Regions from separate parts of the Homo sapiens genome. Here region 2 is linked to region 1. A link means that fine-mapping ties the variant in region 1 to the expression of a gene that starts in the linked region. Tissue or cell type: neutrophils. Region 1 holds a variant in brackets; the other region holds the start of a gene. All regions are shown on one strand. Distances are from middle to middle.

Region 1 (6,825 bases):
GAGGGGTAGGCCTCTGGAGAGGGTGCGCCCACAGGGGATGGGCCCAGAAGGAGGGGGACCAGGGAGTCCCAGCTCACATGTTTCACAACAGGGTTTTGGATGGGCGTCTCAGGGCTGCTGTCAGGAGGTGGCCCCAAGCTCAGCATGGTGCTCACGCATCCCTCTACTTGGGCATGCAAGAAGTTGTTGAAGACATAATGGAAGAAGAGGTCCTATGGGAGGACACAGGATTGGTACCAGAGAGGCCCCGCCCCAGCCGAGCCCCCAACCCCTGAGCCCCCAGCCGAGCCCCCACCCCAGCCCCCGAACCCTCAGCCCAGTCCAGTCCCCGCCCCAGCCCCTGAACCCCCAGCCCGGTCCAGTCCCCGCACCAGCATGGTGTTGGGCACGTCCAGTGCCAGGAGCTCGTGCGTCAGGGCTGCATCATTGGCGCTCAGGGCACTGGCCAGGAGCTTGACCACGTGCAGCCGCGTGTTGCCCAGAGGCGGAGCCAGCATGCCCCATGTCATCTGTAGCGGCTCCAGCTGCAGACACAGGGAGGCCTGATTCCCAAGGGCTGCCCTTCCTGCTTCCCCCGCCTCCCCGAGGACCAGAACCCACACCCCTGACCTTGGGAGGCTCCAGCAGGAGCTGGTGGAAGCAGCTGAGCCGCGGGCGTAGGGCGTGCAAGGCGCCCACACTGGACACAGTGCTTTCCAGGGCCCCCTGGGCCAGGAGCTCCAGCTGCCCATCCACACTGCTGAAGAAGCTGTTCACGGTCACGGACTCGGACCTGCAGCAGGGCAGGGTCGAAGGCGGAGTGAGCCTAGATGGCCTGTGCGCCCACACAGGAGTAGGCACAAGGACCACGTCTGCAGGGTCTGGAGGAAAACGAGGAGCCACATGCCCCCAGCGCCGCTCTCTTCTGAGGCCCTTCAGACAACACCTGGCTGGGGTGGGGAGCCCGCCAGGCGGCAGCATTGGCAGTCCACTGTGAGAGCACGGGTGAGGGGTGGAGGCGGGAAGGCAAACCCAACAGGCTAGCGGCCTGTGTGGTAAGGCAGGGGCACGGGGGCCTGGGGTCCCTCCCAACACAAGCTGCAGCAGTGGCCTCAGCCTCAGTGCCCTCACTTGTCAAAGCAGACAAGAAGATTCCTCCCTCGGCCCCGTACTGTCCACTGTGCAGGGAGCACAGGCAGCCACAGAGCAAGGTGCCACGGGCGGGGATTTCTCTTGGTGGACACCGAGACCCGCCTCTGAGGGGCCGGAGAGCCCCTGGGGATGGGCAGCATGCATGGTCTGTGGCCCGTATCCCTCACCTCGGCCTCCTGGGCTCCAGCAGGGTCAGCAGCACCTGGATCCCACTGACGATGACAGACTGGCTCTGCTCCCCCTCGAACATGTTGCTTAAGAGCTGCTCAATCGTCTCCTGCCTGCGGGGGCAGGGGCAGGGGTCAGGGTGAGGGGCCAGGGGCCCAGGGCTTCCCCAAGTCAGCTCCCCCCAGCCTTAGCCTTGCCCGCACACCCACTTCTCCAGGGTGGCCAGCAGTTGGTCAGGCTCTGGGCTGTCCTGGACTTGGATCATCTGCTCCCGGCTCAGGCGGATGATGTCACACAGGGACTGGGATGCGTTGGAATGTTGCTGGAACGGGGAGAGACAGGTGAGGATCCTGGTCGGGCCACCGGGCCCTCTGCAGCCTGGTGCTGGGAGCCCCTCCCATGAGCTGACCATCCAGGGAAAAATGGTCACCCAGACACAGGGACACGTGTTACGAAGGAGGAGGGCACAGAGGCACCAACTGCTGGAGGGAAGATGGTGGAGAGAACAGGAAGCCCGGAAGGCTCCCCAGGACAGGAGGCATCCACACAAGGCCCTCATGACCGCATACAGGGCTGGCAGCACCGCCCACAATGACCCAGAAGGCTCTGACTGATGAGTGAATATGCCCAAGCTGGTCTATCCACACAGGAGAGTGCTAATCAGCCAGGAAAAGGAGTGAAACTGATACATGCAACCACATGAATGAGCCACAAAAACATCATGCTAGAGAAAGAAACCACACACAGATCACGTAGTACATGATTCCAATTATATGAAATGTCCAAAGACAAATCCACAGAGACAGAATAGTCTGGTGGTTGCCGGGGGCTAAGAAGAGAAAGGGGAAGATCAGGAGGAGCTGCTAATGAACACAGGGCATCTTTTTTATTTTTTCTGGAGAAAGGGTCTCGGCTGGGTGTGATGGCACATGCCTATAATCCCAGCAGTCTGAAAGGCCGAGGTGGGGCCGGGCGCGGTGGCTCACGCCTGTAATCCCAGCACTTTGGGAGGCCGAGGCAGGTGGATCACGAGGTCAGGAGTTTGAGACCAGCCTGGCCAACATGGTGAAACCCC[A/G]TCTCTACTAAAAATAAAAAAATTAGCCAGGCGCAGTGGTAGGCGCCTGTAGTCCCAGCTACTCGGGAGGCTGAGGCAGGAGAATCGCTTGAACCTGGGAGGTGGAGGCTGCAGTGAGCCGAGATCGTGCCACTGCACTCTAGACAGAGCGAGACTCCATCTCAAAAAAAAAAAAAAAAAAAGAAAGGCCAAGGTGGCAGGATCACTTGAGCCCAGGAGTTTGAGACCAGTCGGGGCAACATAGCAAAACTCTATCTCTACAAATACAAAAAAATTAGCCAAGAATGGTGGTGTGCATCTCTAGTTCCAGCTGTTCATGAGGCAGAGGCAGGAGGATTGCTTGAGCCCAGGGGGGTCAAGGCTACAGTGAGGCAAGATCACGCCACTGCACTCCAGCCTGGGCAACAGAGCAAGACACTGTCTCAAAAAAAAGACACGGCCTCTACATCACCCCAGGCTTGAGCGCAGTGGTGCCATCACAGCTCACTGCAGCCCTGAACTCCTGGGCCCAAGAGATCCTCCCGTCTCAGACTCTTGAGTAGCTAGGATTACAGGTGTGCACCACCAATGCCAGCTAATTTTTCAATTTTTTGTAGCGACAACGTCTTGCTATGTTGCCCAGGCTAGTCTCAAACTCCTGGGCTCAAGCAATCCTCCAGCCTCACCTGCCAAAGCGCTGGGATTACAGGCAGGACTTGTTTTTTGGAGTGATAAAAAATAATCTAAATTCAACAAGATGATAAACGCTTTGAATACCCTAAAAGCGCTGAATCGTAAGCTTCGGTGGGTGAGTGGTATGCTGTGCAATTTACATCTCAGTAAAGCTGCTACAAAAGAGAGAAAAGAGAGAAGCATAAGCAGAGCTGAGTCTACCCAACGGGCAGCTGCCAGGGCTTGGCAGTGTGGCCCTGGGCCATGCCTCAGGGTCCTCACAGGGACAGGCCCCAGCCTGGGTGAGCCCAGAGCCATCTCTGCTCTGTAAGCCTGTGCGCCTCTGAGGCAGAAGTTGGCATTGGGAAGGACATGTTGCTCCCAGTGGCCTCGGATATCTGAGGCTCTTGACAAACACCCACTCTACACTAGGCCCTGTGCTGGGCACCAGGACAGAGATGGAGACCCAAGCTGGAGAAACACATGGACATGGGGTCCCCCAGAGCTAAAGGGGAGGATGTGAGGGCGCTTGAAAGCAAGGCTGCTGGACGGACACTTAGAAGGACAGCAAGGGGTTCAATCAGGCAGGAGACAGGGAAAAAGCTGCCAGGCCCAGCAATAGCACAGGCCAGGGTGGGCAGGGACGGATGTGGGGCCAGCGCTTGGACAGGCGATGAGGAGGGCCCCTCCCTGCAAGGCATTATGTGCCAAGTTCCTGGGTCATGAAAAAAACCTTTCCAGCACTTTCGGAGGCCACAGTGGGAGAATCACTTGAGTCAAGTTTCTTTCCTTTTCTCAAAGGGCATGGATACACCTGGTTCTCAATGCTCTCTTTTCTCACCAATTTCTTTTCTTTCTTTTTTTTTTTTTGAGACAGGGTCTCACTGTGTCACCCAGGCTGGAGTGCAGTGGTGTGATCATGACTCACTATAGCCTTGACCTCCCGGCTCAAGCAATCCTCCTACCTGAGCTTCCCAAGTAGCTGGGACTACAGGTGTGCAACACCACACTCAGCTAAGTTTTTACGTAGAGACGGGGTGTTACTATGTTGCCCAAGCTGGTCTCAAACTCATGGGCTCAAGTAATCCTCCCACCTCGCCCTCCCAAAGTGCTGGAATTACAGGCGTGAGCCACTGCGTCCAGCCCCAATTCCTCTTTTAAAAGTGGGGAAGTGGGCATGGGGAAGGAACTCTAAGGGGAATCCGCAGGGGCATCGGCAGCACTCACATTCTCATCCTTCGACGGGTGGATCTGCTCAATCAGCCGCTGGACGATCTTCTCCTCGTTGAGCCACTGAGGGTGAGAAGGCGAGGGATGCATCGCTGTCCACCACGCCCAGCCCCCCACCCCCAGAGGAGCCGGCCCTGCTCACATTGACAACATCCTGCCTCAGCTGAGGCCGCTCCACACAGGTGAGCAGGCGCAGCAGGAGGTCCATGATGGCCGAGGTGCCAATGTGCTGCAGCAGCAGGTCCACGAAGTCATCCTTCTTCCGAAGAAAGGACACGAGCTGGGGGCACACGGGCTGCGTCATGCACAGGGCCTGGCCCAGCCACCACCCCTCAACCCACGGTGGCGCCAGGGTGGGGGCCAGGGCACCTGGTCTGTCTTGCGGTTGATGAGGATGCCCATGACCTTGCTGAAGAAGCTGGCCAGCAGTGGGTTGAGGCTGCCGGTGCTCTGCAGGAAGCCGTAGAGCCGGTTCAGAAGGGACTCATCAGCACCCAGGGCATCATTGATCTGGGGCACATCTGAGGTCAGAATCTCGCAGGCCACACTGGGGTACCTGGGAGGCAAGCACAGGCGGGTGGGGGCTCGGGTCGGAGGCCGGGGGCAGGGGGCGGCAAGGCTCCACCCTCTTCTCTGCACCGGGCACTGGGTTTCTGGGAACTGCAGAGACCCCTGTCCAGGAAGGGGAAAGGGCAGAGGACAGGGTGACGCAGAAACAAGGGCCCACACCAGGCCTCCTCCACCCTGCTAACACCCAACCATCCCATCCTAGGCTCCTTACCACCCCCAAGACAAGCTGGTCCTGAAGCTCCTGCGCTTCCCAATCCCCCAGCAGCTAACACTCATCCCTTTTGCCTCTCAGCGGCTTCACTTGCAACCCCGTATGCTGCCCCAGCTCCGGCTGACTCCTGGAACCTTGCTCAACTTCCAACCTCACCTCCTGCCTCCCTCCTCCAAACTTTCACACGGTGCCTGACGGCTCCAAGACAAGAGCTGCCCCACCAGCGTGCCACTCAAGGCCCTGAGGGGCCACAGTCTGCTCCAGGACTGTGGGGAGGTACCCCTTGGGAGGCTGAGGCAGGCATATCACTTGAGGTCAGAAGTTCAAGACCAGCCTGGGCAACATGGCGAAACCCTGTCTCTACCAAAAATACAAAAATTAGCTGGGCGTGCTGGCTTATAGTCCCAGCTACTTAGGAGGGTGAGGCAGGAGAATCACTTGAACTTGGGAGGAGGAGGTTGCAGTGAGCCGATCATGCCTCTGCACTCCAACCTGGTGATAAAGTGAGTCTCAAAAAAAAAAAAAAAAGTGTCTTTTCAGCATCGCTTGGATTAAAAAATAAGTAAAGTGTCTTCAATAGCAGACAAGTGTTTCACAAACATACAAAAAAAGTTTAATAAAAAGTAAATAAAATAAAAGGCGGCGAATAAAGAGAAAAACCAGCCGGGCATGTCGTCACATGCCTGTGGTCCCAGCTACTCGGGCAACTGAGGCGGGAGGATCACCTGGGCCCGTGAATTTGTGGCTGCCGTGACCCGTGACTGTGCCACTGCCCTCCAGAGCACAGGCTTGGTCTGCACCCGGTGAGCTGTGAGGCCTTGTGCAGGAGCCTGGCTGCTCCCAGCCTCGTCTTCCTCATCCCCAAACTGGAGTTTACTGACACTGACGCATTTCAGGGTAGCTGTGAGGCTTGCGTAGTGAAGGTATGTGTGATGCTGATAGGGACGGGCTGGCCAGGAGCTGGGGAACTCACTTGTAGCGCAGCCGCTCCTCACCGCTATCTGGCGGCTCCTGGGTGACCCAGGCCACCATTGCTTGCAGGTGGGGTGGCTGCAGCAGGAAGTCCAGCAGCTTGCGGTTGACGACCTTGCACTCCTGCAGCACGTCTTCCTCGTCCAGCAGCTCGGGCAGGCTCAGGTCCTCCCGCTCCAGCAGCGTGTCCAGGTGCGAGCTTGTGTGCAGGTCAAACTTCCAAAACATGGCGCCCTGCAGGCATAGACACAACCAGCGCCGCGTCAGACGCCCCAGGGAGTCCCCACTGGACGAGGCACTGACCACAGGGGCTGAGTGCCCACCTTGGGCACAGCCTCTCCCCAAGTCCCAGCCCTCTGCCTCATGCTGAGCCCGGCCCCGCCCCGGGACTGCCCGCAGGCTCACTGCCTCCATCACTCAGGCTTAAGGCTCCCAGTGAGCACCAGGCTCCTGCAGTTGCCCTCGAGCCTGCCCCTCTTCCCCCATCTCCAGCCTCCCGGCCGCCTCGCCTGAGGTCCAGGGGGTCATTTCACACCTGAGGCCTCAGGCCTGGTGAAGTCCCCAGGTGTGGACCATGTGCAGGGCCTGCGAGAAGAGGCTGGACCCTGTGCACTGAGGGGCCTCGGGCCCTGTCTCCCCATGAGGGTCTGGGTCCACTATCCCTACTTTTGGGAGAGACACTGCAGAGGCAGGGCCTTAACCTCTGGCTTCAAATTTGCTTCAACCTGTATTTGCTCAACAAACTCAGATGCCCGATGACTTCCAGCACACGGCTGCTGCTTGGCCCAGCAAATCCCCCAAGGCTACGTGGGAGGCA
Region 2 (5,912 bases), 81 kb after region 1:
CAGTCCTAGCTCACACATTCTCCTGCTTGGGGAGTTTCTCCCTGCCCTCCCAGCCCCTCCGTGCACCTCCCAGCCTCCAGGGCCTCCCCAGGATGCTCACCTCTCCAAGCTTCCTGGGGCTCTCAGTCCTGGAGCTGGGGCTGGGTGAGCTCAGGGAAGAAGGGCTGGCATTCGGGGTGGGGCTCAGGCAGACATCCTGCAGAGGCAAAGTCCAGGCTGCAGGACTGCCTGGGTCCTTTGGTCTGACTGCCACTTCCTAACGGCTCTCTGTCCCCAAACCACCGTGTCCTGTCTCCTTAGAACCTCACAGGCAGCACCGTAGCTTTGGGGGACCCTAATTTCCTTCCTCCAGCTTTGTGTATTCAACATCCAAACTCTCAGCCCTATCCTCCCCTGGACTCAGATCGGAGCCTCCACCCTTGGGGACCCAGGAGTCCAAGCTCCAACTCCTTCCTCCTTCCCCAAAATGCAGGAGTCCAGGCCCCCAGAACTCTTCCCTTAGACACAGAAGTCCCAGCCACCTCCTCTCTCACTATGCCACCTCGTGTCTTTTAATGGACATAAAATCCACATAACATTAGCCATTTTAAAGTGTACGACTCGGCCAGGCACGGCGGCTCACGCCTGTAATCCCAGCAGTTTGGGAGACCAAGGTGGGCAGATCATCTGGAGTCAGGTGTTTGAGACTAGCCTGGCCAACATGGTGAAACCCCATCTCTACTAAAAATGCAAAAATTAGCTGGGTGTGGTGGCGGGAGCCTGTAATCCCAGCTACTCCGGAGGCTGAGGCAGGAGAATCCCTTGAACCTGGGAAGCAGAAGTTGCAGTCAGTCCAGATCATGCCATTGGACTCCAGCCTGGGTGACAAGAGCAAAACTCTGTCTCAGAAAAAAGAAAAAAAAAATGTGCGACTCAGCGACATTAGTGCACTCCCAATGTTATGCAACCATCGCCTCTTTCTTTTTTTTTTTTTGAGACAGAGTCTCCCTCTGTCACCCAGATTGGAGTGCAGTGGCGCAATTTCGGCTCACTGCAACCTCTGCTTCCCGGGTTCAAGTGATTCTCCTGCCTCAGCCTCCTGAGGAGCTGGGATTACAGGCCGGTGCCACCATGCCTGGCTAATTTTTGTATTTTTAGTAGAGATGGGGTTTCACCATGTTGGCCAGGCTGGTCTCGAACTCCCAACCTCAGGTGATCCACCCGCCTCAGGCTCCCAAAGTGCTGGGATTACAGGCGTGAGACACTGCGCCCAACCTTTTTTTTTTTTTTTTTTTTCTGAAACAGAGTCTCCCTCTGTTGCCCAGGCTGGAGTGCAGTGGCACAATCTTGGCTCACTGGGACCTCCACCTCCTGGGTTCAAGTGATTCTCATGCCTCAGCCTCCCAAGTAGCTGGGATTACAGGTGCCCGCCACTATGCCTGGCTAATTTTTGCATTTTTTGATAAAGACAGAGTTTCACCATGTTGGCCAGGCTGGCCTCAAAATGCTGACCTCAAGTGATCCCCCTGCCTCAGCCTCCCAAAGTGCTGGGATTACAGGCGGAAGCCATCGCGCCCAACCCGTCTGGTGTATTTTATGCTCAGTGTAATGTTTTTGAGATTCATCCATGTTGTGGCATGTATTAGTGTTTCATTCCTTTATTTTTTATTTTTATTTTTTAAACAGCCAGGGTCGGCTGGGCAAGGTGGCTGACGCCTGTAGTCCCAGCACTTTGGGAGGCTGAGGCAGGTGGATCACCTGAGGTCAGGAGATCGAGACCAGCCTGGCCAACATGGTGAAAACCTGTCTCTACTAAAAATACAAAAAAAAATTAGCTGGGTGGCCGGGCATGGTGGCTCACGCCTGCAATCCCAGCACTTTGGGAGGCCGAGGTGGGCAGATCATGAGATCAGGAGTTTGAGACCAGCCTGGCCAACATAGTGAAACCCCGTCTCTACTAAAAATACAAAAATTAGCCGGGTGTGGTGGCAGGCACCTGTAATCCCAGCTACTCGGGAGGCTGAGGCAGGAGAATCGCTTGAACCCAGGAGGCGGAGGTTGCAGTGAGCCGAGATCGCACCACTGCATTCCAGCCTGGGCGACAGAGTGAGACTCCGTCTCCAAAAATAAATAAAATAAAATAAATAAATAAAATAAAAAATAAATCCTGTCCCAGTGGGGCTGATAGAGGGCAAAGCTCTCCAAGTCCTCCTCACCCCTTCTGCTGCCAAATGCCTCTCCTCTGGGTCTCGTCTTCCTCCTTTCGCTTCTTTTTCCGGAGGTCTCCGTTTGCCCAGACATGAATCTGAGCCACCCCCTGCCCTCAGGGGAATCCCTGTCTGTGGGCAACACAGATGATCAGCAGGTGACAGCTCCTCTAAAGGAAGTCACACAAAGCTATGAGGGAGCCCAGGGGAGGGAGGGGTCCATGCTACCTGCTCCTCCGTCGGCCCTCAACACTGATCTCCTGCCCTGCCCTGTCCTGTGTTTGCCACCTGGCTGATTCCCACTTCTCTTCCAAAAACATAATAATAATAAAGACGAGAAAGCCCAGGTGATCCTAAGGAAGACTTGTCCCCGCTCTGAGCCTCCATACCCAACTCGGTGTCCTGGCACAAAGATGAGTTTGGCTCACTGGTGTCCCCACGGTGCTTATGTGACCTGCTTGGACCCTCCCTGGGAGGACAGGGGACAGGGCTCCAGCCTGCCGAGCTACTTTCAAGTTGGGAATTAGGCCCCACTCACCGGCCACGGGTAGGTTGGGTGTCTGGAGCCTGAAGGATCCTTCCAGAAGCTAGGGCTGCTGGCCTGGCTCAGCCGAGGGGAAGAGGCTGTGCTTTTCCTCTGAGAAAGATGACGTTGCACTTTCATATTGAGGAAACCGCTTGTGGTTGGTGGTGGGGACTGGTTTTTATTTTTATTTTTATTTTTTTATTTTATTTTTTATTTTTGAGACGGAGTTTCGCTCTTGTTGCCCAGGCTGGAGTGCAATGGCGCGATCTCAGCTGACCGCAACCTCTGCCCCCGGGTTCAAGCGATTCTCCTGCTCAGCCTCCCAAGTAGCTGGAATTACAGTCATGCACCACCACACCCGGCTAATTTTGTATTTTTTTAGTAGAAACAGGGTTTCTCCATGTCGGTCAGGCTAGTCCCAAACTCCTGACATCCGGTGTTCCACCCGCCTCGGCCTCCCAAGTGCTAGGATTACAGGCGTGAGCCACCGCGGCCGGCCTATTTTTATTTTTATATCCCTAGATGTCTATGTCCCCTGCCTGGAAGTTTCCCCAGAGAGGGGATGTAGACGTCTAGGAACACAGAGGTCTCAGAACCTTCCCCAGGGAGGGGATGTACACCTCTAGAGATAGATGGGTCTCGGACCTCTGTTTTCTTGTCTGCAAAACAGGGATCATGATGGTCTGCCCTCGTGCAATTGTGAGGGTTTATTGGGGTTATCCACATAAGACCCTAAAAGAATGCCTGTCTGACCGGGCCCGGTGGCTCACGCCTGTAATCCCAGCATTTTGGGAGGCTGAGGCGGGTGGATCACCTGAGGTCATGAGTTCGAGACCAGCCTGGCCAATATGGCGAAACCCCGTTTCTACTAAAAATACAAAAATTAGCTGGGCATGGTGGCGGGCGCCTGTAATCCCAGCTACTCAAGAGGCTGAGGCCGGAGAATCGCTTGAATCCAGGAAGTGGAGGTTGCAGTGAGTCGAGATTGTGCCACTACACTCCAGCCCGGACGACAAGAGCGAAACTCCCTCTCAAAAAAACAAAAAAGAAAGAAAGAAAAGAAAAGCAAGAGATTGACTGGGGATGAGGTTGCTGAAGGATAAAGGAGGAGAAAGGCCAGGCGCGGTGGCTTAAGCCTGTAATCCCAGCACTTTGGGAGGCCAAGGCAGGCGGATCACGAGGTCAGGAGTTCAAGACCAGCCTGGCCAATATGGTGAAACCCCGTCTCTACTAAAAATACAAAAAAAAAAAGAAAAAAAGAAAAAGGAGGAGAAAGACCAGGAGTGGCTGGGAGAGACTTCAGACTGCAACGTGAGTGGGTCTGGGTCTGACACTGGAGAAAGGAGATGGGGAGAGTGGAAGAATCACAGACCATGTGCAGTTCTGAGAACCCCGGTCAGGTCAGCTGGGAAATGTGGTGCAAAGATCACCCATACGCAAGTCCATGGAGACCGAAAGCAAGTCAGTGGTTGCAAGGGGTGGGAAGAGGGGAGGATGGGAAATGATTGCTTATTTGGAGTTTCCTTATGGGGGTTATGAAACTGTTTTGGAACTAGATAGAGACGAAGGTTGCACAACATTGGGACTGTGCTAGACGACACCGAATTATACTTTAAAATGCTTAGAGTGGGCCGGGCGCCGTGGCTCACGCCTGTCATCCCAGCACTTTGGGAGGCCGAGGCGGGCGGATCACGAGGTCAGGAGATCAACACCATCCTGGCTAACATGGTGAAACCCCATCTCTACTAAAAATACAAAAAAATTAGCCGGGCGTGGTGGCGGGCGCCTGTGGTCCCAGCTACCCGGGAGGTTGAGGCAGGAGAACGGCGGGAACCCGGGAGGCGGCAGTTGCAGTGAGCCGAGATCGCGTCGCCGCACTCCAGCCTGGGCGACAGAGCGAGACTCCGTCCCAAAAAATAAATAAATAAATACATAAATAAATAAATAAATAAATAATTTAAAAATTAAATTTAACTTTTTTTTTTTTTTTTTGAGACGGAGTCTCGCTCTTTGGCCCAGGCTGGAGTGCAGTGACGCGATCTCGGCTCACTGCAAGCTCCGCCTCCCGGGTTCAAAGGATTCTCCTGCCTCAGCCTCCCGAGTAGCTGGGACTAAAGGCGCCCGCCACCACGCCCGGCTAATTTTTTTTTTTTTTTTTTTGTATGTTTAGTAGAGATGAGGTTCCACTGTGTTATTCAGGATGGTCTTGATCTCCTGACCTCGTGATCCGCCCGCCTCGGCCTCCCAAAGTGTTGGGATTACAGGTGAGAGCCACCGCGCCTGGCCAAAAAGTTAAATTTAATAAATAAATAAATAAACACTTTAGCACATTGACTTTAGAGGTGTCCACATTGGGCAGAAACGGCCAGGCTCTGCTCCCCACCCCATGCTTAGTCATCGGTCAAGGCTGCATAAAAAGAATGTAATAGCAATCCAAATCAAACACTGCTGAAGGTGCTACTGCTGGAGGCTGGAGACCAGCTGAAGTCCTCCCTGCTAATCAAGTTCTTTCAGGAAGGGTGAGCCACCTGGCTACCGTACTTGCCCAATGTCACTCAGCTACCGAGTGGAGCAGCTTGGGTCTGTCTGGCTGTAAAGTTTGGTTCCTTCCTATGTGCCATGCAATGCCCTTGAATATCCCTCCTTATCTTCACCCATCCAACCTTCTCCTGAAACATCCATTTATCTGTGCATATGTTCATGCCTTTGTGCATTCCTCCAGCTAGTTATTTCTCCACTCATCCACCCACCTGCCTATCCGGCCAGCCATTTGCTCATATGTTCTTTTTTTTTTTTTTTTTTGAGATGGACTTTTGCTCTTGTTGCCCAGGCTGGAGTGCAGTGGCGCGATCTCGGCTCACTACAACCTCTGCCTCCCGGGTTCTAGCAATTCTCCTGCCTCAGCCTCCCGAGTAGCTGGGGTTACAGGCACCTGCCACCATTCTACCTAGAAGTAGAATTACTGGGTTGTATAGTAACATTTTTAGGAACTGCTAAACTACTTTCCGCCATGTGTACACGATTTACACCATTTTACATTCCTGACAGCAGTGCATGAGGGTTTCAATCTCTCCACACCGGCAACAGTGCCTGCTATTATCGGTCTTTTTAAAATTACATTACAATCTTTTTTAGGGATGAGATCTGGCTTTGTTGCTGAGGCCAGAGTTCAGTGGCTATTCACAGGTAGTGTCATAGCA

Which allele goes with the higher level. Alleles are on the strand shown, and positions count from the first base shown. SD is a standard deviation of normalised expression in the study named.
As copies of G replace A in region 1, the expression in neutrophils of the gene that starts at base 2,794 in region 2 goes up (large effect, 1.9 SD a copy in BLUEPRINT).

What was found. PIP is the estimated chance that this variant, and not a neighbour inherited with it, causes the effect.
Region 2: it holds the start of TMEM150B, and the variant in region 1 is the best candidate, but not a certain one, in a credible set for the expression of TMEM150B in neutrophils (BLUEPRINT, PIP 0.66).

The regions. Positions count from the first base shown.
Region 1 is chr19:55,240,868-55,247,692 of GRCh38, forward strand. PPP6R1 (protein phosphatase 6 regulatory subunit 1) reads right to left here. Exons shown (of 24, transcript NM_014931.4): 2 at 6,010-6,242; 3 at 4,625-4,811; 4 at 4,398-4,535; 5 at 4,253-4,318; 6 at 1,509-1,621; 7 at 1,299-1,412; 8 at 610-772; 9 at 372-524; 10 at 78-212. The coding sequence starts at 6,236. It overlaps MIR6803 (microRNA 6803), which reads right to left and starts at 4,383; the gene lies at 4,319-4,383. The variant A/G (reference allele first, on the strand shown) is at 2,375.
Region 2 is chr19:55,322,548-55,328,459 of GRCh38, forward strand. TMEM150B (transmembrane protein 150B) reads right to left here and starts at 2,794. Exons shown (of 8, transcript NM_001282011.2): 1 at 2,725-2,794; 2 at 101-196.